Homo sapiens: one gene and its partners. The protein of the gene in region 1 interacts with the protein of each later gene in a pairwise test. Each region holds a gene or a part of one and is shown on either strand. Other genes may lie near its edges. The genes, in order: GLYCTK, ATP23, PUDP, ZFP90, SAXO1, ZG16 and ANKRD53.

The links.
Region 2: the proteins of GLYCTK (region 1) and ATP23 interact in binary tests that used the Homo sapiens proteins (3 or more experiments, as listed by UniProt).
Region 3: the proteins of GLYCTK (region 1) and PUDP interact in binary tests that used the Homo sapiens proteins (3 or more experiments, as listed by UniProt).
Region 4: the proteins of GLYCTK (region 1) and ZFP90 interact in binary tests that used the Homo sapiens proteins (3 or more experiments, as listed by UniProt).
Region 5: the proteins of GLYCTK (region 1) and SAXO1 interact in binary tests that used the Homo sapiens proteins (3 or more experiments, as listed by UniProt).
Region 6: the proteins of GLYCTK (region 1) and ZG16 interact in binary tests that used the Homo sapiens proteins (3 or more experiments, as listed by UniProt).
Region 7: the proteins of GLYCTK (region 1) and ANKRD53 interact in binary tests that used the Homo sapiens proteins (3 or more experiments, as listed by UniProt).

Annotation. Positions count from the first base shown.
Region 1 is NC_000003.12:52,286,230-52,291,020, reverse strand, and holds the start of GLYCTK (glycerate kinase), read right to left. Parts: upstream 3,194-4,791; 5' UTR 3,145-3,193; exon of another isoform or gene 718-3,144; 5' UTR 679-717; coding exon 302-678; intron 62-301; coding exon 1-61.
Region 2 is NC_000012.12:57,947,579-57,951,929, forward strand, and holds part of ATP23 (mitochondrial inner membrane protease ATP23 homolog), read left to right. Parts: intron 1-3,135; exon of another isoform or gene 3,136-3,306; intron 3,307-4,179; coding exon 4,180-4,317; intron 4,318-4,351.
Region 3 is NC_000023.11:7,047,884-7,051,601, reverse strand, and holds the end of PUDP (pseudouridine-5'-phosphatase), read left to right. Parts: intron 1-1,129; coding exon 1,130-1,306; 3' UTR 1,307-2,682; downstream 2,683-3,718. UniProt on the Homo sapiens protein: Dephosphorylates pseudouridine 5'-phosphate, a potential intermediate in rRNA degradation. Pseudouridine is then excreted intact in urine.
Region 4 is NC_000016.10:68,565,014-68,568,035, forward strand, and holds the end of ZFP90 (zinc finger protein 90 homolog), read left to right. Parts: 3' UTR 1-2,118; downstream 2,119-3,022.
Region 5 is NC_000009.12:19,026,127-19,030,477, reverse strand, and holds part of SAXO1 (stabilizer of axonemal microtubules 1), read left to right. Parts: intron 1-4,351. UniProt on the Homo sapiens protein: May play a role in the regulation of cilium length. Stabilizes microtubules at low temperature.
Region 6 is NC_000016.10:29,776,160-29,781,055, forward strand, and holds the start of ZG16 (zymogen granule membrane protein 16 precursor), read left to right. Parts: upstream 1-2,096; 5' UTR 2,097-2,147; intron 2,148-3,100; 5' UTR 3,101-3,107; coding exon 3,108-3,162; intron 3,163-3,345; coding exon 3,346-3,478; intron 3,479-3,944; coding exon 3,945-4,260; 3' UTR 4,261-4,896. UniProt on the Homo sapiens protein: May play a role in protein trafficking. May act as a linker molecule between the submembranous matrix on the luminal side of zymogen granule membrane (ZGM) and aggregated secretory proteins during granule formation in the TGN.
Region 7 is NC_000002.12:70,977,106-70,981,938, forward strand, and holds the start of ANKRD53 (ankyrin repeat domain-containing protein 53), read left to right. Parts: upstream 1-1,524; 5' UTR 1,525-1,540; coding exon 1,541-1,710; intron 1,711-1,991; coding exon 1,992-2,238; intron 2,239-2,555; coding exon 2,556-2,755; intron 2,756-4,830; coding exon 4,831-4,833. UniProt on the Homo sapiens protein: Required for normal progression through mitosis. Involved in chromosome alignment and cytokinesis via regulation of microtubules polymerization.

The DNA of each region.
Region 1 (4,791 bases):
GAGGTTGTCCTCCGCACCCTCGAATACCTGGACACGGCTATGTGGCTTCAGCAGCATCTCCCTGGGGAGGGAAAGGTCAGCACGCAAGAGATGGGGTGGACTCCTCTCCTCCCACCTGATCTCTCAACTTTACAGGTGATGGGGGCATGAACGAAGATGCCCACTGACATGCATCCTGGGGCCAGGCCAGATCCAGGAGAAATGGGAAGCGGGTGGGGAGGGGAGGCCCGATTCAGCCTGTGTCTGGGCCCAGGTTTCCCTCCAGATAGATAGAGGGAGGCAGGCCCCCATGGCTCCTTACTGCTTGCCGGCACGCTCCATGGCAGCACGGATCCCCTTGGGAACGCTGATCACGCCCTGCACAAGATGCTGGCCCAGTAGTTCCTCAGCTGCAGCTGCCATACCCAGCACAGCCTTGCCAAAGCCCACCAGGTAGAGGTTTTGCCTCAGCTGAAAGTTCCGGTCCCGCACCTTCAGCTGTCTGCCACCAGGGTCCAAGGATAGTGCCCGGTGCAGCATGGGGCCCGGCAGCACTGCACCTACAGCACTCTCAAACAGCTGCCTGGCCTGCTCTGCCAAGGCCATGCTGCTGGCCAGACGGGCCACTGAGCCCCGCCAGAGGAGTGGATGCAAGGGGGCTCGGGCCAAGCGGGGCAGGACCTGCAGGGCTGCAGCCATGCCCCACTGCTCTCAGCACTGCCTGGCACCCATGGCTGCCTAGAGGGAAAAAGCACAACTGAGGCCCTTGCAAGGCAAAAGACAGGAGGTCCCCCACGGCCGCCCCTCTGAGGGCTCAGGGCCAGTGGACCCCACAGCTGCTGCTACAAGAAGGAGCCATCTGATAGCCCCAGGAGACTTCCTGAAGCCTGCAGCTGCAGGATCTTACTCGTCCTTGGAGACCAGCCCTGCCACCCAGCCACGTCCTCCTCTTCTGCAGACCACATGCCGGCCCTCTGGATACTCTGCCTCAAGTCCAAAGTTCCTATTAGCTGGGCCCTCCTCCCAGGTCACCCCTTTGGCTGGGAGTTAATCATTGACAGAGGGAGTAATTTCTACCAGTGGGCTCCCATCCCACCCCTTTTCCACCCCCTGCACTTCTGCGCTGTTACCCTGGGGCAACGCCCCTTTCTGGCACTCCTTCCTTGCCTCTTTACCACCTCTGCTGCCAGGAAGCTGTTGATTGTCCCACCAACTGACCCTGAGCCCATTGACCTCCAGTCTTCTCTATTTCATTATCTCATGAGACTGGGATTAGGAGCCTGGGAAGTCAGGGTCTATAGGAGGCTGCAGGTTTATCAGGTCAAACCCAGAACACATCCTCAGGGCAAGCAATCTGAGGAATCTCAGTATGCAGGACCAGTTCAGCAAGAGGTTTAGGTTCAAATCAGGAGTGAGGGCAAAGTCTGGCTCATGGTGGAACCTTAGAAAAGTCCCCAGGCACCATGTGAGGCCATGTGCCATGAAGCCCAATTGCAGGACAGAAAAGGATGCCCTTCTACCCACACAGTTGGCCAGACCCAACCCTGCCAAGAACACGCCTTCTGGTTCCAAGATAACAAAAACAAGTCCTAGGTCACACCACCCACAGTGGTGAGAGCCCAAGGGCTGAAGTAGGCAAAGGCCAGGCTCCCATAACTGAGCCCATAGCCATTTTCCCCACTGGGCAGAGTAAAAGCTAAAGAAGCCTTGGGGCGAAGGTCAGGAAGCTGTAGAGGGGTATAGGAACAACAAAGACCCAAACAGCTCATCTGTACTACATATGTACTATTGCATCTACTTTAATAAATGCCTACCATAAATGTTGCAAGCTGACTTCATCAGCAAGTATGGACTGAGCAGGGTAAGGAGGCTGGGAATTGAGGTTCCAGCTCTACTATAGGCTTTCTGAGTGGCTGGGACACCTCCATTTCTCTCACTGGGCCTCATCCGCAAAATGAGACATGGGGTGAGATTAACACTACGCTCTTCCCTTAACAACCTCAGGCTCTCTGATACTGTCCACTGCAACACAGATCTCAAACACCGGTTTACCCCACACCCAAATATGGTGGTTACTTCTAGACTTTGACCATTTTGCTTGCCTAGTTCTCAGCTCTCCGGTAAGAAAAGACAGCCATGCCTGACTTCTGTTGTGAAAGGGAACACAGAGGGCATCGTCATGGGGATTCCGAAAATGGGTCCAGTTTTGGCCAGGGGGACCCCTGGAGCTTGCCCATTGGACTTGGAGCTAAAAGCATCTTAGCAACTAAGACAGCCGGTCTTTATAGCCTGGATGAAATTTGTATCTATTTCCCAGATGGACAAGAGCCTAGAAGATCCCAGCCTTGCCACTGGGTATGAGCACAGGACAGGGGGACGCTCAATGCTAAGGCTGCCAGAGAAAATACAGGACTTCCGGTTAAATTTGAATTTCAAATAAACAAGTAATTTTTAAAGTATAAGTATGTGCATACAATGTTTAGGACTTAACAATTATTCGTCGTTTATCTTAACTCAAATTTAACTGGACGTGGCCCGGCGCAGTGGCTCACGCCTGTAATCCCAGCACTTTGGAAGGCTGAGGCGGGCGCATCACCTGAGGTCAGGAGTTCGAGACCAGCCTGACCAACGTGGTGAAACCCCGTCTCTTCTAAAAATACAAAAATTAGCCGGGTGTGGTGGGCGCCCGTAATCCCAGCTACTCGGGAGACTGAGGCATGAGAATCATTTGAACAGGGGAGGCGGAGGTTGCAGTGAGCCGAGATCGCGCCACTGCACTCCAGCCTGGGTGACAGAGTGAGATTCTAACTCAAAAAAAATGTAACTGGACGCTTTGCATTTTTATTTGCTAAGTCCTCCAATTCTATCCAAGACACGGTCTCTCCGAAACTCCGGGAGGCTCCAGAGCAAAACAACGGAAATAGGAAGACTACCGGTCTTGACTCCTCCCCGCCATCAAAGAAGGCTGGTACCATTTCCGGCTTTCCCTAGACAGTAGGGGGCCGGAAGTGACGTCATCCTAAGGTAGGGCCTTAGCGAGGGAAATGGCTGCCGCGTAATGCCCGGTGATGCGAGAAAGAAGGGCCTGCTGCCACCAGGACCCGTCATCGCCCAGCCCAGGGACCGCTTCTGAAGGCCATGCGAGCCCTGGCGGCGCAGACTTACCAGCCCACAGCTCCGGCCGCGGTGCCCAGCGCTGGAGAACGGAAGTACTAGGGGGTGGGCGGAGCGGAAGCCGGAAGTGTGGGTGGGTGGAGCGGCGCAGGCGGGTGCGAGCTCTGGCTGAAGCCGGTGTCCGGGAGGGGAGAGTTTAGCATATTGGCTCTTTGCTGGCCACTGACAGACCTGGAAGGAGTCACCTTCAGTCCTCATTTTTTAAATCTCTACATTGAGGGTAATAATCCCCGCCTCACCGATTGCCGATTTTTTTTTTGAGACGGGGTCTCATTCTGTCGCCCAGACTGGAGTGCAGAGTCGCGGTTTCGGCCCAATGCAACCTCCGCCTCCCGGATTCAAGCGATTCTCATGCCTCAGCCTCCCGAGTAGCTGGGATTACAGGCATGTGCCACCACTCCGGGCTAATTTTTGTATTTTTTAGTAGAGACGGGCTTTCGCCATGTTGCCCAGGCTGGTCTCGAACGCCTAACCTCAAGCGATCCACCCACCTCAGCCTCCGAAAGTGATGGGATTACAGACTTCAGCCGCCGCACCCGGCCTCTCCCTTCCTTTATCCTGTACGGTCAGTCAGCAGATGCACCCTGAGTGTCAGGCACTGACTGGGCTGAGCAAACGAACTGAGAATCACTACTTCCCCACAACTCACCCCTTCTGGAGCCAGATTAAGTAATTCCCGCTCCTCTCCATGGCTTTTATTCCACAACTTATTATTGTTCTTCCCTCTCCCACCATGGGCCACCAAATACAGCTCTGGCTTAGCAAGAGTTCCATTCTGCGATCCTCAAGCACATAAGCGGCATGTAAACGCTAATGACTCTGGGCCTACCTCGCTGTCCCTACTCTCATCCGGGGCCTACCCTGTGTTGGCTGGATGCCTTCCCACATTCATAAGATGAGTCCTGATCAGACTCCAAAAATACAAAACAGTTCACTGTTTTTACTGATGTTTTCTTAGGGAGATAGAGGAGAGAGTTGCATCACAAATCACACACTTGATTTCCTAACAATTTTATTGAAACATGTTTCTTGGCAGGGCGCAGTGTTTCACGCCTGTAATCCCAACATTGGGGAGGCCAAGGTGGGCGGATCGCTTGAGCCTAGGAATGCGAGACCAGCCTGGGAACATGGCGAAACTTATCTCTACCAAAAAAAAAAGAGCCAGGTGTGGTGGCATGCTCCTGTAGTCCCAGCTACTCAGGAGGCTGAGATGGGAGGATCACCTGAGCCTGGGAGGTAGAGGCTGCAGTGAACCTTGATCACGCCACTGCACTCCAACCTGGGCCCCTGTCTCAAAAAAAAACCAACAAACAAAAACACATTTCTTTCTCTTGGTTTTGAGGTGGAGTCTTGCTCTGTCACCCAGGCTGGACTGCAATGGCACAGTCTCAGCTCACGGCCACTGCACTGCAGCCTGGGCACGATGTCGGCTCACTGCAACCTCCGCCTCCCAGGTTCAAGCAATTCTCCTGCCTCAGCCTCCCGAATAGCTGGGACTACAGGCGCCCGCCACCACGTCCAGCTAATTTTTGTATTTTTAGTAGAGACAGAGTTTCACCATGTTGGCCAGGCTGGTCTCGAACTCCTGACCTTGTGATCCACCGCCCTTGGCCTCCCAAAGTGCAGGGATTACAGGCG
Region 2 (4,351 bases), on another chromosome or scaffold:
TAAATTAAAGGGTTTTTACCTTTACGTGGTGAGAATTGATACTGCCTGTGAAAATTTTTTATTAGGGGAGTTTTCTAATCTGTACAATTTGGGCAACGATTGTATCTATTTTATGGAATGATTATGAGAATTAAATGAGATATCTCTTATAGAGTTGCTTATCTTAGTGCCTGGCCCATAGTAAGCATTCAATAAATTTTATTATTAGTTTTAAGTCATCAGAGAGTTTCGACAGAGTCTTGGAGGTGGTAGATAATGTCATGTGATCAGGGTAAATGATGGTGTTATAAGTAACTGTTTCCCACTTGAATGTATAATTCATACTTAACTACACTTAACTGTTTCCTGCTGGATAATTTTGTATGTATTTAGGTTATTTATAGCATTTTTACAGTAATCATGTGAAGTGGCAATATAGAACAAGGATGAGAAGTCTAGATTTTGGAGTCAGACTTGAGTTCAAATCCTAGTTTCCTTGCTTATTATCTGTGGGGCTTGGGCAAGTTATTTTTCTTCTTCTCAGTTTCCTCATTTGTAAACTGGTAATCACAATACCTATAGCTCTCAAAATGGCTCTGGATAAGTTCACTCCCTTCTCGGTCCCCCCAGGGTTAAACAGAGTGCACATCTTGAACTTTCATCCTAATTCTCAGCAGTGTTGAACACAGTTGGGCACCCTCTCCTTTTATTTTATTATTATTTTTTAAATTATTATTATTTTTGAGACAGAGTCTTACTCTGTCACCCAGGCTGGAATGCAGTGGTGCAATATGGGCTCACTGCAACCTCTGCCTCCTGGGTTCAAGTGATTCTCCTGCCTCAGCCTCCTGAGTAGCTGGGATTGCAGGCATGTGCCACCATGCCCAGCTAATTTTTGTATTTTTAGTAGAGTCAGGGTTTCACCATATTGGCCAGGCTGGTCTTGAACCCCTGACCTCAGGTGATCCACCCATCTTGGCCTCCCAAACTGCTAGGATTACAGGCGTGAGCCACTGTGCCTGGCCTATTTTTTTAAATGAAAATTTTTATTATGAAGTATCTCATTCATACAGAAGAGTAAAACATCTATATGTACACTTTCAGTAATAATAAAGTGCACACCTATGTAACCACCACCCAGACTAGAGAAAAAGAACATTACTAGGACTTCAGAAGCCTTCGTGGTCCTCTTGAATCAGGTCCTTTTCCCTTCCTTATCCTGACTTTTGTGGTAACCATTCCCTGCTTTTCTGAATGGCTTTACCATCTACATATACAATCCAACAGTGTGTTATTTAGTTGCCTGCTTTTGAGCTTTATACATGTTATACTTTGAATTTTATGTAGCATTTTGTAGTATTATGAAATTGTACAGTATATAGTCTCCAATTACTTTCCACCTTCAGCATTTGTGAGATTCTTTCTTGTTGTTGTGTGTACCTCTCTGGTTTATTTCGTTTCCCTGTTATATGGTATTTATTCCGTTGTGTGTTTATACTATAGTTTACTCTAATATTGATTGTTTCCAACTTTGTTATTATGAACAATGCTGCTATGAATATTTTTGACCTTCGCTACTGGTGCACATGTGCAAGAGTTTCTCTAAGGTATATGCTCAAGAGCAGAATTACTGGGTCATATAGTTTGTATACACTTGACTTCAGCTGTTAATGCCAAACACTTTCTTTGGTTTCTAGTATACAGCACTCTTCTGGTTGCTCCTTTGCTAGCTTACCTTCCTCTACTAGCATTTAAATGTCAAAGTCCCTCAATCCTTGGTCATAGAGCCCCTTCTTTTCTTACTCTGCCAAGGAGGTCTCATCAATTTTCTGGGGTCAAAGCTCACTTTTAAGAACTCCACATTCCATATATCCAAGTGCCCATTTAACACCTCTACTTGAGCATCTTTTTATTTATTTATTTATTTTTATTTTTAAGGAAAAAAAGTTTTTTTGGGACAGGGTCTTGCTCTGTCGCCTAGGCTGGAGTGCAGTGGCGCAATCATGGCTCACTACAGCCTTGAACTCCTGGGCTCAAGCAATCCTCCCATCTCAGCCTCCTGAGTAGTTGGGACTACAGGAGTGCATCACTGGACCCAGCTAACTTTTAAAATTTTTTGTAGAGATGAGGTCTCACTATGTTGCCCAGGCTGGTCTTAAACTCCTGGCCTCAAATGATCCTTCCATTTCAGCCTCCCAAAGTGCTGGGATTACAAGTGAGAGCCACTGCTCCCCACCTACTTAAGGGTCTTAAGGACACTTCAGACTTGAAATGTGTAAGTCCAAATTCATGATTTTTACCATCCCCCATCTCCCCACTCAACCCAGTCTTTTAGTTTTGCATATCTCAGTGGATGGTGCTACCATCGACCCTATTAGCCAAGCCAGAAATTTATGGATCATCTTTGATACCCCTGATTCCTTCCCCGTATTCTATCAACATATTTTGTCTAATTTACCTCCTAAATAACTCTTTTGGCTTCCACCACCATTCTAGCTGAAGTGCTGTTCTCTCTTGCCTAGAATATTAGCCTTCAGCTAATTTCTCTGCATCCAGTTTTGGCCATCTCCTGCCTATTCTTCCAACTATAGTTAAAAGGATAAAAGCAAAATAAAACAAAAGCAGTCTTCTGTTTCAACATTCCCTTTATCCTGAGAGCTTCCCATTGCTCTTAGGGTAAAGACAAGGTCTTCAGGGATTTGGCCCCCCGACCTCACCAGCCGTATCTGTTGCCTACCACCCCCACCGCTGTGCTTCAACTCTAGGGCTCTCCTTTTAGCTTCTCAAGCATTTTCTTCCGTCAACCCTCCCTCTACGCTTTGCATAGGTTTTTCTCTCTGCCTAGAATACTCCCTTCCCCTCCACACCTCAAATTTCACTTCTATTCCTCCATTAGATACCAGTTTAACCATTCCTTCCACAGAGAAACCTTCCCCCACCTCCAGAGTAGGTCAGGCATTCTTTCTTTTTCTTTTTTTTTTTTTTGACACAGGGTCTCCCTTTCTTGCCCAGGCTGGAGTTCAGTGGCGTGTTCCTGGCTCACTGCAGCACCAACCTCCTGGGCTCAAGTGATCCTCCTACCTCAGCCTTCCAAGTAGCTGGGACTATAGGCATGTGCCACCATGCCTGGCTAATTTTTATTTTATTTTTTTATAGAGATGGGGTTTTGCTCTGTTGCCCAGGCTGGTCCCGAACTCCTGGGCTCAAGGAATCTGCCTGCCTCAGCCTCTCAAAGTACTGGGATTATAGGCATGAGCCACTGCACCCAACCTCATTGTATATGCTCATGACAACCTGGGTTTTTCTTCATGACAACTGTCATTGCATGTATGTAAACATTTTGGTAAATATTTGGTTAGTTTCTATCTCCATCAGTAGATTATAATCTATTATTAGGTCTCAATAAGTATTAGTTGAATCAATGGATGTTGAATGAATGTATATAAATATCTGGCACATATCCCAGTGTCTGGCAGTAGTACACAATCAATGGCAGCTATTACTATTAGGATCCCTTGTGTCTTTCTTATTCTTATAGGGTCCTGCTCAGTGTGCTGTTGTGTTTTGCACTTCTTTCTGAAGGTCTTTCTGATGAGTTTTCCCTGGCATTTGCCCTCATTCTAGTAAAATGAGGACAGTGGTGGTCATTCCTTTTTCATTCAATGCTCATTCAGAAACTTGATAAGAAGTATTTTACATATATTCTCATTTAATTCTCACAGTTCTATGAGGTAGCTACCCTAATTATCTCCTTTTTATAGTTGAGGAAATTGAGGTACAGAGAGATTAAGAAACTTGCCTAAGGTCACTGAGTTAGTAAGGGGTGGAGCTGGAATTTGAATCTGTGTGCTTCATTCCAAAGCCCACTCTCTTAACCATAATGCTGTGGAGTCCGAGACAGACTAGTACGATCAGCCCAGTAAGGATGGTGTGTGAATACGTGTCCTTAATCTAAGTACTGCTGTAGTCCAGAGAGAGGAGAAGGGAGAAGTTAGTCACTGGGCGAGGCAATTGGAGCATGTACACTTAGGACTAGGACTTGTCCCATGGGTAGATGTGTGGCCAATGAAGAAGAGTGGGTAGAGATATTCCAGGCAGGTGAGCTTGTGGGGGAGAGGTGAGGTCATGTGGGAGAGAAGATCGAGTCTATGGAAGGAGATTTTAGAATCACTGAACTTCTTTTATTTTGGTGTCTCCTAGATAGTTTTGTGCCAGAATAATATCCATAATCAGGCCCATATGAACAGAGTGGTCACACACGAGCTTATTCATGCATTTGATCATTGTCGTGCCCATGTCGACTGGTTCACCAACATCAGACATTTGGCGTGCTCAGAGGTGAGTTTTATTGTATTTTTCTCCAGAATACTCT
Region 3 (3,718 bases), on another chromosome or scaffold:
TACAAACACCCCATTTTATGTATTGGTTTTTCTTTTAGTACTTTATTTTTTTCCTTTTTAATTTTAATTTTTATTTTAATAGTCTGTAGGGTACAGGTGGCTTTTGGTTACATGGATAAGTTCTTTAGCAGTGATTTCTGAGATTTTAGCACACACGTCAACCGAACAGTGTGCACTGTACCCAGTATGTAGTCTTTTCTTCCTCACCCCGCTAGTCCCCAAAATGCATTATATAGAATTCTTATGGCTTCCCATCCTCATAGCTTAGATTCCACTTATAAGTGAGAGCATACGATATTTGGATTTCCATTCCTGAGTTACTTAGAATAATGGCCTCCAGCTCCATCCATGTTGCTGCAGAAGACATTATTTCATTCCTTTTTATGTCTGAGTAGTATTCCATGGTGTATATATGCCTCATTTTCTTTATCCGCTCATTGGTGGATGGGCACTTAGGTTGGTTCCATATCTTTGCAGTTGCCAGTAGGAAACACCCCATTTTCAATGTGGGTATCTGAATGAAGAGACCACGGGTTTTGGATGGTGTTGTGTCTGTAATCCCAATAATAAAGTGGATTTTCGCGATTATCCAAAAGAGAGCATGCACGCACACTACGTTTTCGTGCTCATTTGTCACGTCACACTAGCACACACAGGAACTGAATTTTTAACTTAAAAGATTCTAACCATTTAATTTTCAAACCACAGTACATAAAACAGGAGCAGCTCTGAAGTGGTTTTATATTTTAAGAGCATGATTTTTAGTTTTGCAATTGCCTCTCACACTCTGAATGTTCAATTATTGATTGAACAGATTGTTATGATCCCAATAAAATAATAAAGTTTTAAGCTGAGAATCTTGCCTCACCACACAGCTGCGCTCCATTTCAACAATGCTTTGGCTGCAACAGAAACCTCTCCCCTTTAAAGGAGCCACGGCGGGGAGACCCCCGGAGCCAGTAAGAAACAGCATGCTGTCCTCACCACAATCTCTACTCTGGGGAGCCCCCACTGTAATTCTGTCTCTTTCTGCACAGTTGCAGAGCCAATGGTGACGACGATAATAAACACTTCATCCACATGTCTGGTTCCATAAAAGGCCATCTCGACTTTCTTTTTCTTCCTACAGTGCCTTGTCTTTGAAGATGCTCCCAATGGGGTGGAGGCGGCCCTGGCAGCTGGGATGCAGGTGGTCATGGTTCCTGACGGAAACTTGAGCCGAGATCTGACAACAAAGGCCACCCTGGTGCTGAATTCCCTGCAGGACTTCCAGCCCGAGCTGTTTGGTTTGCCCTCCTATGAGTGAGAGGGAGGGCCTCAGTCTTCCGCCCCCAGCCCACTCTCATGGTCCACACTGCTGGGGGAAAGGGAAAGGAAATCAGCAACTCTTCAATCCCAACCTGCGCTGTGATTTTAGCCTCCTGAGATTGGAGTTTCCATCCCATGTTGGTTTGTCCCAGTCTAACGTGTTGATAAAATGTGACTTGACGGTTGAGACAAAAAATACAGTAGAGACAGAAACGAAGCCCAGAACAAAGATGAAACTTGAATTACCATCTCAGAAGTCAAGCTGATGGAGTATGTGATAAAGTGAATGTACATGTATATACACACACACCTCCATATATACATGTGTGTATCAGTTTGGTAATATGCAGGTAGGCATTACATGCATATGTATGTAGACATATGCATGCATGTATATGTAAAATATATACTTTTCCAAGACAAAATGGAACATCACTTCTCTCTTCTAGTTTTTCTGAACACTGGCTGGGAAATGTAAACTGTGTATGCATATAAGTATATGCTTTATGTATGCATATGTATGTAGATATGTTTATATCTATCGTCTGCATCACTCTCCTCAGTGTTGATGTCAACATGCAATGACAACTGATAAAGCGAGATGGTAGTTCTGCCTGGTTTGCAGTCTGAGTGGGAAAGTCCTGTTTTTGATGAGCACTCCTTGTTAGCTAACATTTAAATTCTTTTTGTGACCTCAGAATGTCTCTGGATCTTTCCTCATTGACTGACTCTGTGCCACGTCATCCATAGTTTATTGTTAGTATGAACACAACTGTAACATTTACCTGGTATCTACATCCTTACCTGCATTGGAAAATGTTTGCTACCTCACAACAACCATTTGCCTCCTTTAAGAACACTGATGGGCTGCACTTTTTGGATAGAAATAGAATTTGATTTCAGAATGTATGCTTGGTGAGTCTCAGTGCCCAGGAACACTTTTGGAATAATTTATCAGACATTGAACTTCTGTGATTAATCGCTTTTATAGATTTACTCAGTCTTTAAAATTCGTCTCTGATTTGCCAGAGAAAAACGGTGGTAGCCATGGAAATCGGGAGTGAAGGAGCACTGCTTCATTGTGGCTCAGCCCTTCCTAGGGGCCTCTGCCCTTTGATGTCCTTGAGCTACTCTTCAGCTCTGGAAGTTGTGGACAAACCGTAGGAATGTATGTGTGCGTGTGGTGGAGTGATTGTCTGTGAATGACAGGCCCTGGCTATTGATTGATGTTGCATCAATTTAGCAAATTCATTTCCTCATTCTTGATGGCCTGAATATATGTCTGCACTTTTAATGCTCCTCTTAACCAGTTGTAACATCTTACCATTTCCCTAACAAATTGAATTAGTTTAATAAAATCTTTTGACACATGTTGATATTTGTATGAGAGTCATGATTTTACCTTAAAAAGAAAAAAACAGTCTTCCAAGAAATGTAAAATATATATGTGACTAATTAAATTTTTTAAAAATCCCAATTAGTACTCCAACTGTAAACGGATATTTATATATTTTAAGTGAGCCGTCCTGCTCCTGCAGTGGTGAATAGAGGCTTTCAATGAAAGACTTACTTCTTTGATTTAGTATCTTCTCCTTCCCAAGTATTTATGTTGGTGTTTTCTAATCATTAAGCCATTTTGTATGAATAAGACAAATGGGTGTAATGCATATCTAAGTGATGTGCATCTACATCTGGGTGAATTTCCTACAGGGTAAATTTGATCTCATGTCCGTTACTGTTTTTTAACCAAAGCTGCTGCCAGATTCTTATATTTTTAGACAAAGGACACACACTGATGCTTGGCCAAAGCACATACGTTCTTTTTTATTCTTCCACATTAGCCAAATTGCTTCAATACATTTTAGTGATGTTACTCCATTGAATAGCTCATGGATTTCACAGAGATATGGTAATACAAATTTACACTAGAGTGATACATGCCAAGGAAGTTTAAAGAGTAATTATACTTTCATAGCTCATTGAAAGTATGTCGTATTAGGGACACACAGTGATTAGTAGAATGTATACAGGTGTGCTGTAACTAGCAGCTAATGTTTGCTTATATATTGTGTGCCCCTAGGAAGGACCTGTTATACTGCTGATATCATCCAAGAGATGGCGCTATCAACGTCATCTTAATTTCACTTAAATGAAACATACACAACACTTAAGAACTTACTGATTACTACTTATTAGACTTTTTTTCCACCTCATAAATCCTCAGATGGAGTTTGGTGTTTTATATAAAAAAATAATCTGGAAGACACCTGTCTTATACTTGAAAGAATCGGCATTCTAAGGAATAGGAGTGATGCTGCTGTGCAACAGTAGTCAGTGTCTAGACACTGCAGTTTATATTTCTTTGATTACATTTGGCAGTTATGCTAAATTTGGCACATTTTATATGGTG
Region 4 (3,022 bases), on another chromosome or scaffold:
TGTCAACAGCTTTTTTAAAAAGCAAATTCCTGCAGTAATGACCAAAACCCATTTTAAAAATTGCTTGACAACTGCACTCAACTGCAGCTCTTACATTAACTTCACCATGGAAACCAGTTCCAACTCCAGGAAGTCACCATTCAAAGAATTAGATCAACTAGCCCAACCACTTCATTGTACAGATGAAGACTGAAAGCCAAAGATGTGAAGTGGTTTCCACAGTATGATACAGCCTATAAGGGTAAAGCTGGGTTAAAAATGCAGGTTTCCTGGATTTGGGGCCCCATGGCCTTGCCAGTGAAAAGGTTATTTTTGGACTCAGAGGGCTTTAAAATAAATTTTAAGATGTATCAGATACACAAACATTTAATGGGCACCTATGGGTTGGACACTTTGAGAATTCTTAAAAGTATAAGTGGGAGCAAAATGTATGCAAATTTATCACAAACTATTTAAAGCAACTTCTTGGAGGCTTACAAACCACAATTTAACAGAAACTGTAGATGGTTGAACTACTAGTGACTTTTTTCCCCTTTTCCCAGTTACAATTATACTTTCAGCTAACATATGCCAGTTTCACAGAACTATTAAGTCCCCTTATTGTACTTTTTATGGCATGCCCATGAAAAAGCACTTTCTTAAGCCTACAGTATCAGATCAATGGGAAAACAACAGAAAACTAAGAGGAGAATTTTCCCGTTAATTTTCTTGCAGAAAAGTTAAGTCTAATTGCCCATTGCCATAAATTTTGCCTTGTACTCAGAGAAGCAACATGCACTGGCTCATTTTATGTGCAAAGAAAAGATTTCACCATTAAAAAAATTAACTTGGCTAGGTATGGTGTCTCACACCTGTAATCCCAGCACTTTGGGTGGCTAAGGCAGATAGACTGCTTGAACCCAGGAGTTCAAGACCAGCCTGGACAACATGGTGAAACCCCATCTCTTTAAAAAAAAAAAAAAATCCAAAAATTAGCTGGGCATGGTGGCATGCAGTGGTAGTCCCAGCTACTCAGGAGGCTGAGGTGGGAGGATCACTGGAACCCGGGAGCAGAGACTGCAGTGAGCTGAGATCACACTACTGCATTCCAGCCTGAGCAACAGAGCAAGACACACACACATCAATTTATTTTAGTTGTATAATGCTTTTCTATTAGTAAAGCATCAGCTAAGCTTCAGTGGCCTGCTCCATCCCCTAATGACTCCCATGGGCTATCCTAAAGGAACTTCCAGAACCTTTGTTGGTGTGTTGACATTGACCATGCAGACCAATTTGGGCACAACTGGACATTGATTCCTTTTACACAAGAGCTGCCTCCCAAAGATAGATAAATTTTCCCAGCCCTAAATATGAATCATGGGGCAAGATATTGGTCGTATTGATGGTGAACCTTTCCTACTGGATTCTTTGCATGCCACATAGCAGGATTCATTGCCTTTCTCTCATCATGGATGGCATGCAGCAGCACCCAAGTATTCTTCATTCTTTGCAGGGAAAAAATTGTGCATGGGGGCTGAAATGTAATATGTGTAGCTCAATTAGTCTCTCCTCTGTGATGCAAAATGGAATATTCAATGGCAGATCTGCCCTTCTGAGATGCTGACCATCCAAAACACCTTGTTTATGGTGCACCATGATTAGCTCACACACAATGCCAAGGCTGTGCTTCTATTATCTGATACATAGTTTGACAATGGGTAATTCTACTCAGACCCTCCCTACTGATTGGCTAGGATGCCTGTCAGGAACTCATTATGCTACTGGTTGTTTGGGGATCCCCATAGTGGACTACTTTCAGGAATGGCATGAATTGTAACCAACTGAGTGCTGCCCCCACTGTTACGGAAGTTTATAAAACCTTAGTTCCAGAAGACCCAAAGGAGAGTACTGGTTTGTGTTTGGTGCTTGGCCTAGATCCAGCCACCACTCTGAAACTCAGCACATCTTCATTGACAGGGAGGGAGCCCAGGACATATGTGTGGCTCATTGACCAGAAGGCTTTCTTAGTCCCAACAGCCATGAACCATGCACTTATGGATACCCAGCCTTTTAGGGCTACGTGAAATGCATCCTTGTAACATCATTGTATTCTTTCAATAAATAGCCTTCTGAGTTGAATGGGAGTCAGTTTGTCGTTTTCAATTTTCAGAACTTGGCTAAGATTAAAGAGTGGTGCACCAAGAGGGAGGAATTAACTGCTAAACTCATCACAGCCAGGTGAGTTAATAGCTACCATTTATTGAATGCTTACTACTTTAAAGACATTGTGCTAGGTGTTTCACATCTGTCATTCAATCCTTATAACTTCTGGTTAGCGGTGTGGTGGTAGTTCTTGTCTTTGCCCAGCATTTTCCCCCTTTTCCTCTTGCAACAATCTGATTGTATTGACTGTAGGAACCTAAATCAGGATGTCCCTGGGGCTCACTGATAGTTTTAGGGGCAGGCATGAGACCTAGTTCAGCTAATCAGAGTCCTTTGCCAGAATTTTTTCCAAGTAGAGCTGGAAGGAGCCCTACTTTGGGCTTTTGTGTTGCTAGGCCAAAAGATAAAGGCCTAGAGCTTCCTGGAACCTGATTTCTTACCAGAGATGGGAAGTAGGAGAGGACAAGGTTGACATGATGGTGTTCTTGTTTCTATTTCCTGATGTCCTTAGACCTGGCTCAATTTCTGAAGCTCTCCTTGGGATTCAGGAAGCTCCCCATCAGTCCAACAGTTTCTCCTTTTTGCTCAAGCTAATTTTTTATGTTTGTTGCTTGCATTAAAGAAACCTAAAATATGTATGATATACTTTTACCTGCCAGAGCATCTAGCGCACCTCCATGGAAGATGAGAAAAGACTTCTGCACTTTTAGGCATATTGATGGTGGTGATGCTTGGTTTTTTTAATAGCTGCAGTAGGCTTTTCACTTTGCAGTATTCTGACTTCAAGATTGAGCACTTTTTAAAAATACTAAGGTGGTTAATTCCTACTCATCTGTTAAAATGCAAATGGTGCTTCAGGAAAGGTTTTGCTGACTCTCCT
Region 5 (4,351 bases), on another chromosome or scaffold:
ACCTTGGCCTCCAAAAGTGTTGGGATTACAGGCGTGAGCCACCGAGCCTGGCACATTGACTCTTTTCTAAAGTCTGGGTCCCTCCTCCATTGTAATCTTTCTTTAATTGGTCCCTTCCCTTTTATTCCGGTTACAACCTCCCTGGTTCTCTCATTTTTGTGTTTGGAAACTGGTCCTAAATTACCTTCCTAGTTTTTTTTTCTCCCATGATTCCCTTACATGAAACTACACCTTGAATTGGATCAGGTTTCTTGGCATCCCCTGAGTGGACCTGCTGATGTCCCTTTTCTGATCCTTATCCTTTCCCTTTCTCTAAAATACCTATGTTCCCTCCTCCTGCTGGACTTGTAAGGCCCGGTTTCACTTGCAAGTTCCCTGTTAACCCAGCCCTGTGGCTCCCCATCAAAGAAAAACCCCGCTCCGTGTTCTCATCCTCTATGCATCAGCATGCTTTATATCCTCGATTAATTATATGTACGCTGGGAAAACAGATATTTTCTATTTTTGTGTGTGCACTGTATCATAGCAACACAGTTTTCTTTATTAACAGCTAACACATATCTTTTTGAATGAATGGATGGCGTTTTTTGTTTGTCAAGGTCATAACATGCTGGACTGGGTTAGGAATGTAAGATTTAGAGATGTACTGTCCAGTATGGTAGCCAGCTGTGGCAATTTCATTTAAATAAATGAAAGTTAAATAAAACTAAAAATTCAGTTTCTCAGCTGCACAAGCCACATGTCAAGTGCTCAGTAGCTACTCGAGTATAGTCACTCCCATACCGGCACATGCAGATAGGGAGTGTTTCCATCACTGCGGAAAGTTCTGTTGGACAACACTGATCTTGAGTCTCATTATTTGGAAGTCTTGATCTCTCCCACCCCAATTAAATCCCTCCCACCCCAATTAAATCTGCTCAGTGACCGGTTGGGATGGAGCGAGGAATTTTATAGGTGTTTTCTAAGCTGTGGAAGTCTATATTTGGCTTTTCCAGTCTGAGGTCATGGGAAAAAGCAATGGGAAATCTGGAAGACAAGCATGCATGAAGAAGTCAGAGACAGCGCCCTTGAGTGGGAGGGGGAGACCGGGGTTCCTGAGTGAGTCACTGGTTCTCTCTGGGCTTCAGTTCCCCCATTTTTTAATCCTGGAGATTTGTGGAGACCCTCAGGGCTGCCAGGGAGGGAGAGAGGCACATTTATTCCCCCTTCTCTCTCACATTCTCTTCTTCCGAAGTTTTTCTTGAGCAAATAATTCTTTAATGTCCTTTCAACTTTAACTTTTGAGGACATTGTACTTGTTGGCGAGTGGGCTCTGGAGATGCTCAGAGGCCTGGATAAAAAGGTGTCCATCTGCAGGAGCAGCTGCCCACAGCTGCTGAGGAAAAGCCACCAATGGGTGACTCTCTTGGAGCAAGTTCTTATATTTGGCCACAAGATGGCAGACGTTTCCTGATCAATTCTCACTGCGGGTTAAACCAAATCAGCCTGAATGGAAAAGCAAAACCTTTGGAGTTCTGGATTTTATTTTATTTTTAAATAGATTTATCTTTAGTTTTCTAAAATGAGCAATTAGAGTTTAGGGTCCAGCAGAGCTCAGGAAAGTGGTACGCCTTTCAGAGTAGATGGCAGATTACGAAGTGAAAAGTGTTTCAAATGTCTAAATTTAAAGATTCCAATCACTTGTAAAACTTTTCAGTGAGCTTTGCTGGGCTAAAAAAAAAATCAGACATATTTTACTGCGTCAAGCTCAAGGCTTTGCCTCCACAACAATGCTCTACTTCTTTCCTTGAAGATCAAAATCTTGCAATTGGAATTATTACCATAGAATGTCATAATATTCTCTTTTCAACATAATCAGCACCAAAAAAGCAGAGTATTGTGGTTTGCAGAAACAGTAAGGTCAGCATCTAAATTTTTTTTGAAACTAATGTACCACTTAATTATCTTGACTTAAGAAGCTACATGGTGGGGGAGTGCTTTGAATAGAGTAACTCTAATTTTGTATATGAGAGTATAATGTTTCCAATTGCATCTGATTATCTCCAGCATTTCCTGTTATTGAAAAAATGCTACTCCGAAGAGTTTTATTTTTTATTTTTTTTGAGACGGAGTCTCGCTCTGTTGCCCAGGCTGGAGTGCAATGGCGCGATCTTGGCTTATTGCAACCTCCGCCTCCCGGGCTCAAGCGATTCTCCTGCCTCAGCCTCCCGAGCAGCTGGGATTACAGGCGCCCGCCACTACGGCCGGCTAATTTTTGTATTTTTTTTGTTTTGTTTTATTTTGCCTCTAAACCATCTTTTATTGCGCACTTCAGCCGCGAGTCCGGGGCTGGCCTGCCGTGCCCTAGGCGTAGTACTGTAGGTTGGCTTTCTTCTTGGCCTGGACCTCCAGGATGCCTTCCATGTAGTCCTCGTGGGTGAGCTCCGTGGCACCCCTGCGCAGTGCGATCATACCCGCCTCCACAGACACAGCCTTGCACTGGGCCCCGTTGAAGTCATCTGTGCAGCGGGTCAGCTCCCTCGCAGTTCACGTCAGGACTGACGTTCATCTTTTGGGAGTGGATCTGCATGATTCTGGCCCAGGCACTCGATCTTGCGGTCCAGGCCGCCCTAGCGTAGCAGGGCGGGGTCCAGGATGTCCACCCGGTTTGTGACTGCAATTACCTTAACTTGGGTGTTGGGCTGGAAGCCATCCAGCTGGTTCAGAAGCTCCAGCATCGTCCTCTGCACCTCTCGGTCCCCGGACTTCTCGCTGTCAAAGTGCTTGGTGCCTATGGCATCCAGCTCATCAGTGAAGATGATGGAGGGCGCTTTCTCCTTGGCCAGGGCGAAGGCATCCCGGACTAGCTTGGCACCATCTCCAGTGAACATCTGCACCAGCTGGGGGCCAGTCAGCTTTAGGAAGGTGGCCTTAGTCTGTGCCCTACAGGCCCAGGCCAGGAGGGTCTTCTCCGTCCCTGGGGGCCAGCACCCCTTTTGGATGTTGGATCCGCAAGTTCTCAAACTTCTCCTTGTGGTTCATTGACAAGACAGTGGCCTCCACCAGTTCCTGGATCTGCTTGTCCAAGCCCCCAGTGTCACTGTATTGCTCCGTGGGTCTCTCATCCACCTCTGTGGCCTTCACCCGCGAGTCGTACTCTGGGCAGTGTCTCCAGGATTGGATAGGAGTCTTTGTTCACACCCACCAGGTCTCCTGGCTTTAGCTTTTCAACATCCACCAATCCAATCACAGGTAGGAAGTATGTCTGTCGTGTAGAGGTTTTGATCACAGCACACTTGTCCTTCCTCTGGGAGTCCAGGTCAATATTTGGACCATCCTCCTCTTGATCATTGGGATCAACATCCAGGAGCTCGATGATGTTGGAGACAAGGTACACCAGGGTTTTGTTCACATTGATTTTCTCACTGTTCTCTTTGATCTTGTCCTTCATGGCTTGGAGCTCATGGGTGACTCTCAACAGTTAACTCTTCATGATCTTGATCTCACTGTCCAGAAGCCATGTGCGCTGGATGATCTCCTCCGTGGACATGTTGAGCACCTCCACCCCAGTTCCATCTTGCTTGGCCTCATCCCACACGGTTGCCATCTTCTTTTCTAGTTTTTGAATTTTTAGTAGAGATGGGGTTTCACCATGTTGGCCAGGCTGGTCTTGAACTCCTGACCTTGTGATCCACCCACCTCAGCCTCCCAAAGTGCTCAGACTACAGGTGTGAGCTACCACGCCCGGCCCAGCATTTTATAATATTAAACCACCTTCCATCTTTACAGTATTTTGAAAATTCAAAAAGTATTTTCCCATATATTATTATCTTACTGTGGGTCCCTCAACATGGGAAGCATTGCTTAGTTTGGAAATTCGATTCCTTGATTTTAGCCTCTCTTTTCCCTGGCGATGTTTTCAGTCTATTGAGCTGTTCTTTCCCAGATGACTAAATTTGAAACTGTGGTTAGGTGGGGGAGTGGGTGGCGCAAGGCAGGGTTGCTGTAAAGTAAAACGTTAATCAGACTTTTAAAGCTGAAAGGGATCTTAGTGGTCTCTAGCTCTTTTATTTTACAGATAAGGAAATAGAAACATTGAGATTAATTTTAATATATGGGAACATGTTAAGCTTCAGGCACAATTTAGGTCAATCAATTAAATTTTATTCATATTTTACTGGGTATCAGACACTGCTAGGTGTTAAAATTTATAGTCTGGTCTATTTTCGAGTCACACTGGACCATTTAAAAAATTGATACATAATGATTGTACATATTTCTGGGGTACAAGTGACATTTTGATATATTCATATAACATGTAACAATCAAATTAGGGTAATTAGCATATCTATCACTTCACACATTGATCATT
Region 6 (4,896 bases), on another chromosome or scaffold:
CAGAGAGGAATCAGTCCTGAAAATGAAGGGCATACAGAGAAAAAAAAAACTATGACATCACCCCTGGGGGTGTTACAGACCTAAGAAAGAAGCAATGGCCCTGGGCGGCCTACAGCCCCAGGAAGATTCAGCCATGGTACCCAGGAGACTTGAGGGCCCAAAGCCCAGAATTACCCCCAGAGGAACACCTGTAGACCTTCGGATCCTTAGCTTTGCACTTCCCATTGGACTGACTCTGTTTCCTGTGGGGCAATAGGCACGTGTTCACTGTGCACCTGCAGCCCCAGTCATCCTTCTCAGAGAGAAATGGTTTGGGAAGTGTTTGGCATATTGGGGATAAATAGATGAGTGGATAGAAAAAAAAATGCAGGCCAGGCACAGTGGCTCACGCCTGTAATCCCAGCACTTTGGGAGGCCGAGGTGGGCGGATCACGAGGTCAAGAGATCGAGACCATCCTGGCAAACATGGCGAAACCCTGTCTCTACTAAAATTACAAAAATTAGCTGGGCGTGGTGGCGCATGCCTGTAATCCCAGCTACTCGGGAGGCTGAGGCAGGAGAATCGCTTGAACCTGGGAAGCAGAGATTATAGTGAGCCGAGATCGCGCCACTGCCCTCCAGCCTGAGGGATAGAGCAAGACTGTGTCTCCAAAAAGAAGAAAGAAAAAAAAGCAATTACAGCAAAATATTAACCATAGTAGAATCTATACAGTGGTTATATAAGTGTCCACTATACAATTCTTTTTTTTTTTTTCCTTTTTTTGAGACTTGATGTTTCGATCATGGCTCACTGCAACTTTGACCTCCTCAGCTCAAGTGATCCTCTTGCCTCAGCCTCCTGACTAGCTGGGATCACAGGTGTGCACCACCATGCCTGGCTAATTGTTTTATTTTTTGTAGAGACGAGATCTCCCTATGTTGCCCATGTTGGTCCTGAACTCCTGAGCTTAAGCAGTCCTCCTGCTTTGACCTCTCAAAGTGCCGGGATTACAGGCATGAGCCACTGCACCCAGTCTTGCTATACGATTCTTTTGTTTTTTTTTTTTTTTTTTTTGAGATGGAGTCTCACTCTGTCGCCCAGGCTAGAGTGCAGTGGAGTGATCTCAGCTCACTGCAACCTCTGCCCCTCAGGTTCAAGTGATTCTCCTGCCTCAGTCTCCTGACTAGCTGGGATCACAGGCACCTGCCATCACACCCAGCTACTTTTTGTATTTTTAGTACAGATGGGGTTTCGCCATGTTGGCCAAGCTGGTCTCAAACTCCTGACCTCAGGTGATCCAGCTGCCTCAGCTTCCCAAAGTGTTGGATTATGGGTGTGAGCCACTGGGCCCAGCCACTGTACAATTCTTTAAACTTTTATATGTGTTTGGATTTTTCATAATATTAGAAAAGGGAAAGAAAAAAATGTCTGGCAAATAGTCAGCACTCGTAAGTATAAGATTTTGGGAATATATTCCCTTCTGGGAGAATCCACATTTCGAATGCCTGGGAAGGGCTCTGTTTGTCCTGACAGATGGCAGATTTCAGGTGAGAGCACCTACTAAGCCTAGAGGTGATAAGCTACTTTGCCCACCTAGAGCTGCTGGTGGTGACCTTAAGTTTACTATGTTTCTCCTGGTATACGGCACTTGGCCCAGAGTGGACTCCAGCTTGCCACCTGTCACCCAGGCTGGAGTGCAGTGGCGTGATCTTGTCTCACTGCAGCCTCAACGTCCTGGGCTCAGGCGATCTTCCCTACCTCCCTCCTGATTAGTTGAGGCTACAGGTGCTCGTCACCATGCCCGGCTAATTTTTGTTTTTGTTTTTTGTTTTGGTAGAGATGGGGTCTCACACTCTTGCCCAGGCTGAGCTAGAACTCCTGGCCTCAAGCGATCTGCCTCTGCCTCCCAAAGCATTGTAATGACAGGTGTGAGTCACCATGCCCAGCCAGGAACTCAGAGAATCTTACCCTATGCTGTAGTATCTGTTGACTATGGGGTAGAGGCAGGATAAGGTGTTCCAGACCCTGCCTGACACCTGATCCGAAGAGGTTGCTCATGTTTGCTCAGGAGGTGAGGTTCACACAATAAAGGGCAGGAGGAGGGCTTGGACCTGGTATAAAACATCTGGAAGTTTCCAGGGGGCTGCTTTGCATCTGAAACTGTCAGGTGAGGGGTGACAGAGATGCCTGAATCTGAGTTGGGGGGGAATTCAAATCTGAGCTGGCGAAGAGGATGCCTGGAAGGAATGGCAGGAAAGACTTGAGTTAATTGGCGCTTCTGGGTCTGCAGTAATCTTAGGTGCAAAGCTGTCTAGGTCTCTGCTGAAGGACTGGGGACACCTGGGATGTTCAGGAGAATAGAAATGGCCAGATGTGTGTTAGTGGAGAAAAGAATAGTGACACATAGACCAGGCACCTGGGGTCTAATATCTTGAGCTGGTCCCGACTCCTTCTGCAACTTCTCTGTCTGTCCTAGTTCCACCAGCACTGCTTGGATACTGGTGCTGGCACAGTTCCTTCTGTCACCAACTTTGCTCCCCAGGTAACATAGAGGCAACTCTAAAATGCTTCTTTCCTTGAGACCAGGTGGATGCCAGGGATTTAAACCATGCTCCAGGTGCCCCATAATCCAGGCCAATTCACCACAGATGATGAGGCTTTCTTTGCTCAGCCTCTGGGCTCAGTAAACTCAGCCATCTCTTTGCTTGGGAGAGGTCCTCTACTCCCTCCTTAGAAAACTCGTTTCCTGGCTATGGCCATACCAACCCAAATGTACCTGGGCTTGGCTGACTTCAGAAAACTTTTCTGCTTTGTGCCAGGATGGAATAAGGCTTAATCCAGATAGTTAGAGTTCATCTTCAGGCCTGAGAGAAAAAGAGGAGGGCTTGGCTACAGCCAGACCAGGGAGAGCTGGAGGGGTCAGGGACATTGAAGGTAGCATCAGAGAGGAACAGGACTACAGGCTATGGACAGTCCTTTCTAAGCTCAAGACTGGGTCTGCTAGGTCTAAGTTGAAGGACGAAGAAGGCTTGGTCTGAGCTGCAGGTCAGGAGTGCCTGGGTCAATCAAGTCAACAAGGAAGAAGGTGAATCTTCATTTGCTCTTTTCTTCCCACTCCAGCCCCAGAATGTTGACAGTCGCTCTCCTAGCCCTTCTCTGTGCCTCAGCCTCTGGCAATGCCAGTAAGTGAGATACCAGGAGCCTGGTATTGGGGACTTGGGAAGGCAGCCTTGGGCACTGCTGTTGGCCAAGGCTTTTGGAGGTTGGCTTGGGGTGGGGAGCTGAGTTGTCGGAGGAACAGGGGTGATGCAGAGAAACTGAACTCCTGGAAGATTTCTCCCTCCAACTCCTGCTTGCCCCTCCAGTTCAGGCCAGGTCTTCCTCCTATAGTGGAGAGTATGGAGGTGGTGGTGGAAAGCGATTCTCTCATTCTGGCAACCAGTTGGACGGCCCCATCACCGCCCTCCGGGTCCGAGTCAACACATACTACATCGTAGGGTAAGATTCTTTGAATTCCTGGCTGGGCGCGGTGGCTCACATCTGTCATTACAATGCTTTGGGAGGCAGAGGCAGATCGCTTGAGGCCAGGAGTTCTAGCTCAGCCTGGGCAAGATGCCAGGGATGCCAGGGATTTAAACCATGCTCCAGGTACCAAGACCCCATCTCTACCGAAGAAAAACAAAAAAATTAGCCAGGCATGGTGGTGAGTACCTGTAGCCTCAACTACTCAGGAGGGAGAGGCGGGAGGATTGCCTGAGCCCAGGATGTTGAGGCTGCAGTGAGCCAAGATCATGCCACTGCACTCCAGCCTGGGTGACAGAGTCTCTTTGTTGGCAAAATGAGTTGAAGTTCCCTGTAGGATCTTCCAGGGTTCACCCAGGCTTCACAGTCTGTAGGACTAGCCAGAGACCTCTCATCCCTATCATCACCTTTCTTTCTCCTTCCTTCCTCCCCTCTTCCTCAGTCTTCAGGTGCGCTATGGCAAGGTGTGGAGCGACTATGTGGGTGGTCGCAACGGAGACCTGGAGGAGATCTTTCTGCACCCTGGGGAATCAGTGATCCAGGTTTCTGGGAAGTACAAGTGGTACCTGAAGAAGCTGGTATTTGTGACAGACAAGGGCCGCTATCTGTCTTTTGGGAAAGACAGTGGCACAAGTTTCAATGCCGTCCCCTTGCACCCCAACACCGTGCTCCGCTTCATCAGTGGCCGGTCTGGTTCTCTCATCGATGCCATTGGCCTGCACTGGGATGTTTACCCCAGTAGCTGCAGCAGATGCTGAGCCTCCTCTCCTTGGCAGGGGCACTGTGATGAGGAGTAAGAACTCCCTTATCACTAACCCCCATCCAAATGGCTCAATAAAAAAAATATGGTTAAGGCTAGTCTGTGTGGGGGCATCTGTGGCTGGGATATCTGCCTCCTGACTTAGCCGGGGACGTGCAAATCTCACTTCTGGCTGGCTTTGGACATCTGTCTGGAAGATGGGAAGATGAGGGAGAGGTATGTAAGAATCCTGGGCTTTGTGCTATAATTTATCAAGAGGAGATGAGATTCTGGCTTGCATCAACGCTCTTCAAGGACAGCTCCTTGGAACATTGATCCAAACTGGAGTCATGGGTCTGAGGGCAAGGCCTAGTTGTGGCTTACACCAAAACCCCAGATGTCCCACTCTCCAGCTCTCCTCACCCCTGGTCCTCCCCTTGAGAAAGTGGTGAACTCACTTGCTGTGTGTGGGTGGCCAGGACCATTAGCCTTTGTTCTTTCCCAGAACCCACCTGACTCCTGAAACTTAGCTGAAGTCTGTGCCCGAGGACCCTGCCCTGTTACCAGGCCCAGTTCCTCCTCACCTCTACCCATGAGCCCCGGTGTCCTGCTAAGCCCTCTCAGATCTGGGATTCCTCCTTCCTCAGGAAGCCAC
Region 7 (4,833 bases), on another chromosome or scaffold:
GGGCGGGGACAGGGGGAGGGAGAGAGAGAGAGAGAGAGAGGACAGCTTACGCCATTATTTCTGTGTATCAGAGACTTTTAGTACTTTCACTAATTTTGCTACTGCTATCTAGAAGGCAGAGCCAGATGTACAGGATGGAACATGAAAGTGAAACAGGAGTGTGACCGCTGAAGTACAGCGTCACAGGGAGATGTTTAGGCCTCCAGATAACTGTGGGCGGGCCTGACTGATGTCAAGCCCTCCACAAAAGGTGGTGGAGTAAAGTCTTCTCTAAACTCCCCCTGGGAAAGGGAGACTCCCTTTCCCGGTCTGCTAAGTAGCGGGTGCTTTTCCTTTGCATTGATGCTACCGCTAGACCACGGTCCGCCAGACCAGGGTCCGCCAGACCACGGTCCACTTGGTAACCGGCGTCTTCCCAGACGCTGGCATTACCGCTAGATCAAGGAGCCCTCTGGTGGCCCTGTCCGGACATAACAGAAGGCTCGCACTCTTGTCTTCTGGTCACTTCTCACTATGTCCCTTTGGTTCCTATCTCTCTATGGCCTGGTTTTTCCTAGGTTATGATTATAGAGCGAGGATTATTACAATATTGGAATAAAGAGTAATTGCTACAAACTAATGATTAACGATATTCATATATAATCACGTCTATGATCTAGATCTAGATCTAGTATAACTCTTGTTGTTTTGTATATTTTATTATACTGGAACAGCTTGTGCCCTCGGTCTCTTGCCTTGGCACCTGGGTGGCTTGCCGCCCACAGAAACTAAGTCAGATAACTTGCCAAAAGCCACACTGCTGATGTGCAGCGCACCCGCTTCACTGCAGGTGGAAGTGGAAGTGAATAATAACCTTCCTGGAAGGCAGTCTGCAAGCCCATATTGACAGCTGAAAAATATTCATTCCCTTTCACCTAGTGATTCGACTCCCAGGAATCCATTCTAAGAAAACAACCAGAGTTGAGCCATTTCGTTCTTGGCAGCACATGTGAAACAATGGCACATCCATTATGACGCTGGGCTCTGGTTGCGTCATAATGTACGTTTAGTATGTGGAGTGACAATGGGCGCTAGCTCGTAATATAATGCTATTAATAAACGAAAAGAGATACAAAAAATAGTCATGATATGCATATATATTGCAATAAACCATGATTTCTGTGCGTGGTGGGATGGTAATTTTTAATTTCCACATTGAATATTTCTGTTTTCTACTTATTAGTTTGATAATCGGAAACAAAAGCCAAGTGTCTTTGTTGTTTGTGTGTTTGATGCTGAGTTTCCCGGGCAGCAGGACTGGGAGGTTGAGTGGGGGTTTTGGCTCAGACCGGGAGCAGAGCGGCGGGTGGGGAGCGGCAGGCGGGCAGGGTCCCCGGAGGCCCCCGGGCTCTGCCCCTCCAGCTAGAGAGGCAGCCGAACCCTAGCGGCCTGGAAGGGGCCGGGAAACCGCGGCCAGCTGGCAAGGAGTGGCCCCCGGGGGCGGGGCGCCGGCGGGTGTGTGAGTAGCCCGCCCGGCCCGGGTCCGAGTTCCAGCCCCGCGATGGCCTCCGCGGGCAGCACCGCTCGGCGGGCGGGCTCCGGAAGCTGGCACTCAGAAAGGGGAGAAGGGAGAGGTGCTCGGCCGCAGCCAACTCCAAGTGGCTCCATGCAGCAGGCGAACAAAGTCTCCTTGAAGGCCACCTGGACTGACGCGGAGTCCAAGCAGCCCAGGTGGGTAGCGGGAGAAGGTGTCCCGGCTGCAGGGAGCGAGAACCCGGCCCAGCGCCTCCCTGGTGGGCAGGGCCTGGAGCGGGCGGGGGCGGAGGCTGCGGCCCGAGAAGCCAGCAGAGACAGGCTGGGGCCAGGGATCGCCTCCCGAGAGGTGCCTAGGCCGTGGCCCAGAGTCGCTTCCCCACTGCCCCGCCCACCAGCCAGGCGGGGGCCAGGGATCGCCTCCCGAGAGGTGCCCGGGCCGTGGCCCAGAGTCGCTTCCCCACTGCCCCGCCCTCCAGCCAGCCCCTGCCCGACCTCGCAGACCACCTCAGTGCGCAGGCGACTGCCCTCGCCAGGCCGCGCCGCCCTGCCTCGCTCACCCCGCCCCGCGCTGACCCCAGCCCCAGCAAGGAGTCCGACCAGACGGCAATCGACCAGACGGCGATCGGGAGCTACTACCAGCTGTTCGCAGCGGCTGTGGGCAACGTGGAATGGCTGCGATTCTGTCTGAACCAGAGCCTCAGGGAAATCCCCACCGACGACAAGGTAAGGTCTTGAGTGTTGGGGCAAAGACCGAGGTCCCTCTCCCGCTACGCTGCTCGGAGTGGTCACCTGGAGAAGAGATATCCTTTTCTGGGTAGATCTTCCTAATTTAACTCATCTTCTGGCTGTGGAAGGACCATTTTGGGGGCAGGGAGGTTGGGTGGGCTGATGAACACACACTGGTTAATTAGCAAAAGGGTGTGAGCATTCCTGGGGACACAGGGAAGAAAGTGAAGGTAACCCCAATAAATTTATATAAATTGTGGACCCTGGGACCTCAGTCCCACTCAGCCTCCTCCTGCCTGCTCTGAACCTCACAGGGCTTCACTGCCATCCACTTCGCCGCCCAATGGGGCAAGCTTGCATGCCTGCAGGTCCTGGTAGAGGAGTACAAGTTTCCCGTGGACCTGCTGACCAACAATAGCCAGACACCCCTGCACCTCGTCATCCACAGGGACAACACCACCGTGGCCCTCCCCTGCATCTACTACCTGCTGGAGAAAGGCGCAGACCTCAATGCGTGAGTCCAGCCTGCTTCAGGAGGGAGGCTTCGGGCACAGGCACGGGCACAGCCCTACTTCCAGGCAGGCAAATCCATGCAGGACAAGCAGAGGGGTTGCTGGAGGTGACAAGGATTGGGTCCCACATAAAGCAGTCAGGAATCCACATGGTGTAATAAAGAGACTGGGCTTTAGCCGGGCATGGTGGCTCATGCCTATAATCCCAACACTTTGGAAGGCCGAGGCAGGCGGATCACCTGAGGTCAGGAGTTCAACACCAGCATGACCAACATGGAGAAACCCCATCTCTACTAAAAATACAAAATTAGCAGGGCATGGTGGCGCATGCCTGTAATCCCAGCTATTCGGGAGGCTGAGGCAGGAGAATTGCTTGAACCCAGGAGATGGAGGTTGCGGTGAGCTGAGATGGTGCCATTGCACTTCAGCCCGGGCAACAAGAGCGAGACTCCGTCTCAACAAAAAAAAAAAAAAAAAAAAGATTGGCCTTTAACAGACCTAGTCTACATCCCAGCTCTGCAACTTGCTAGCAGACAGCAGGACCTTAGGCAAGTCACTCAACCTCTATGCCCCAGTACTCTGGCTCCCAAACTTAGGTGTACATTGGAATTACCTAGGGAGCTTAAAAAATATGAACACCTGGCCGGGTGGCATGGTGGCATAGTCCCAGCTACTTGGGAGGCTGAGGCAGGAGAATCGCTTGAACCCGGGAGGTGGAGGTTGCGGTGGGCCGAGATTGCTCCAATGCACTCCAGCCTGGCAATAGAGCGAGACTGTCTCAAAAAATAAAAAATAAAAAAAATTAGGCTGGCCGCAGTGGCTCACGCCTGTAATCCCAGCACTTTGGGAGGCTGGGGCGAGCGGATCACGAGGTCAGGAGATCAAGAACATCCTGGCTAACATGGTAAAACCCCGTCTCTACTAAAAATACAAAAAAGTTAACCGGGCGTAGTGGCGGGTGCCTGTTGTCCCAGCTACTTGGGAGGCTGAGGCAGGAGAATGGCGTGAACCTGGGAGGCAGAGCTTGCAGTGAGCCAAGATCGTGCCACTGCACTCCAGCCTGGGCGACAGAGCGAGACTCCGTCTAAAAAAAAAAAATTAAAAAATATAAACACCTGTGTTCCAATCCAAAGGCTGTGATTTAATGGGTCTGTGGTGTGACCTGGGCTTGGGAAGTCAGAAAAGATCCCCAGGTGCTTCTAACTTGAAGCTAAGTTTGGGAACCTCTGTCTCAGTGTCTTCAACTGAAACTTGGGAGAATAGCAGTACCTATCACATGGGACTACTGTGATCACTGAAAAGTGCATGGCATATAGGAGACTGCATTCATTCAAAGTATCAAGTATGCACTATGTGCTAAGCACTATGCTAGAGTCACAGAAATGGTCCCTCTCCTCACGAAGCTGACATTCTAGTAAAGGAGCAGACAGTGAATTAGCAAACAAATAAATGAACAAAATCCTGACAGAGCATGGGAAGTGGTTATGAAAAAATAAACGGGGTGATGGTGTAGGGGGTAAAGCAGGTAGGGGGAGGATCTATTTTGGATGAAGCAATCACCTCTAAGGAGGTGACATTTAAATTGGAACCTGAAGACAGAGTGAGCCAGCCATGCAAAGAGCCAGGGAAAAGTGTTCCAGGTAGAGGTAACATCATATGCAAAGACCATGTGTTGGGAAAGAGTGGGCAAGGTCAAAGGATAAGATCGAGGAGGTTAGGCCCAGGTCATGCAGATCTTGTGGGCATACGGAATCTGGTGAGGCATAGGGAAAGGGCAGGGGGCTGGTTGGTTTAAGAGTGGATGAGGTTAGTGGTCTCTGAACCAAGCCAGCTCTCCTTCCAGCAGTTCTTAACTATCACATACCTTCTAAAGTCAGATTTTTACTGTTCACTTAGTCCAATTCCTCCCTTTACAGTAAAGGAAATTGAGGTGCCAAAAGGGACAGACATAGCTAGGATCACCCAGTGGACTGATGGTAGAGCAGGGCTTGGAAACTGGTGTGTCCATCTATCTGATGGACAGATGCTCTTTGTCTTTCCTTTCTGCCCTTATCCCCACTGGTGGGGCCTTCCACAGTCA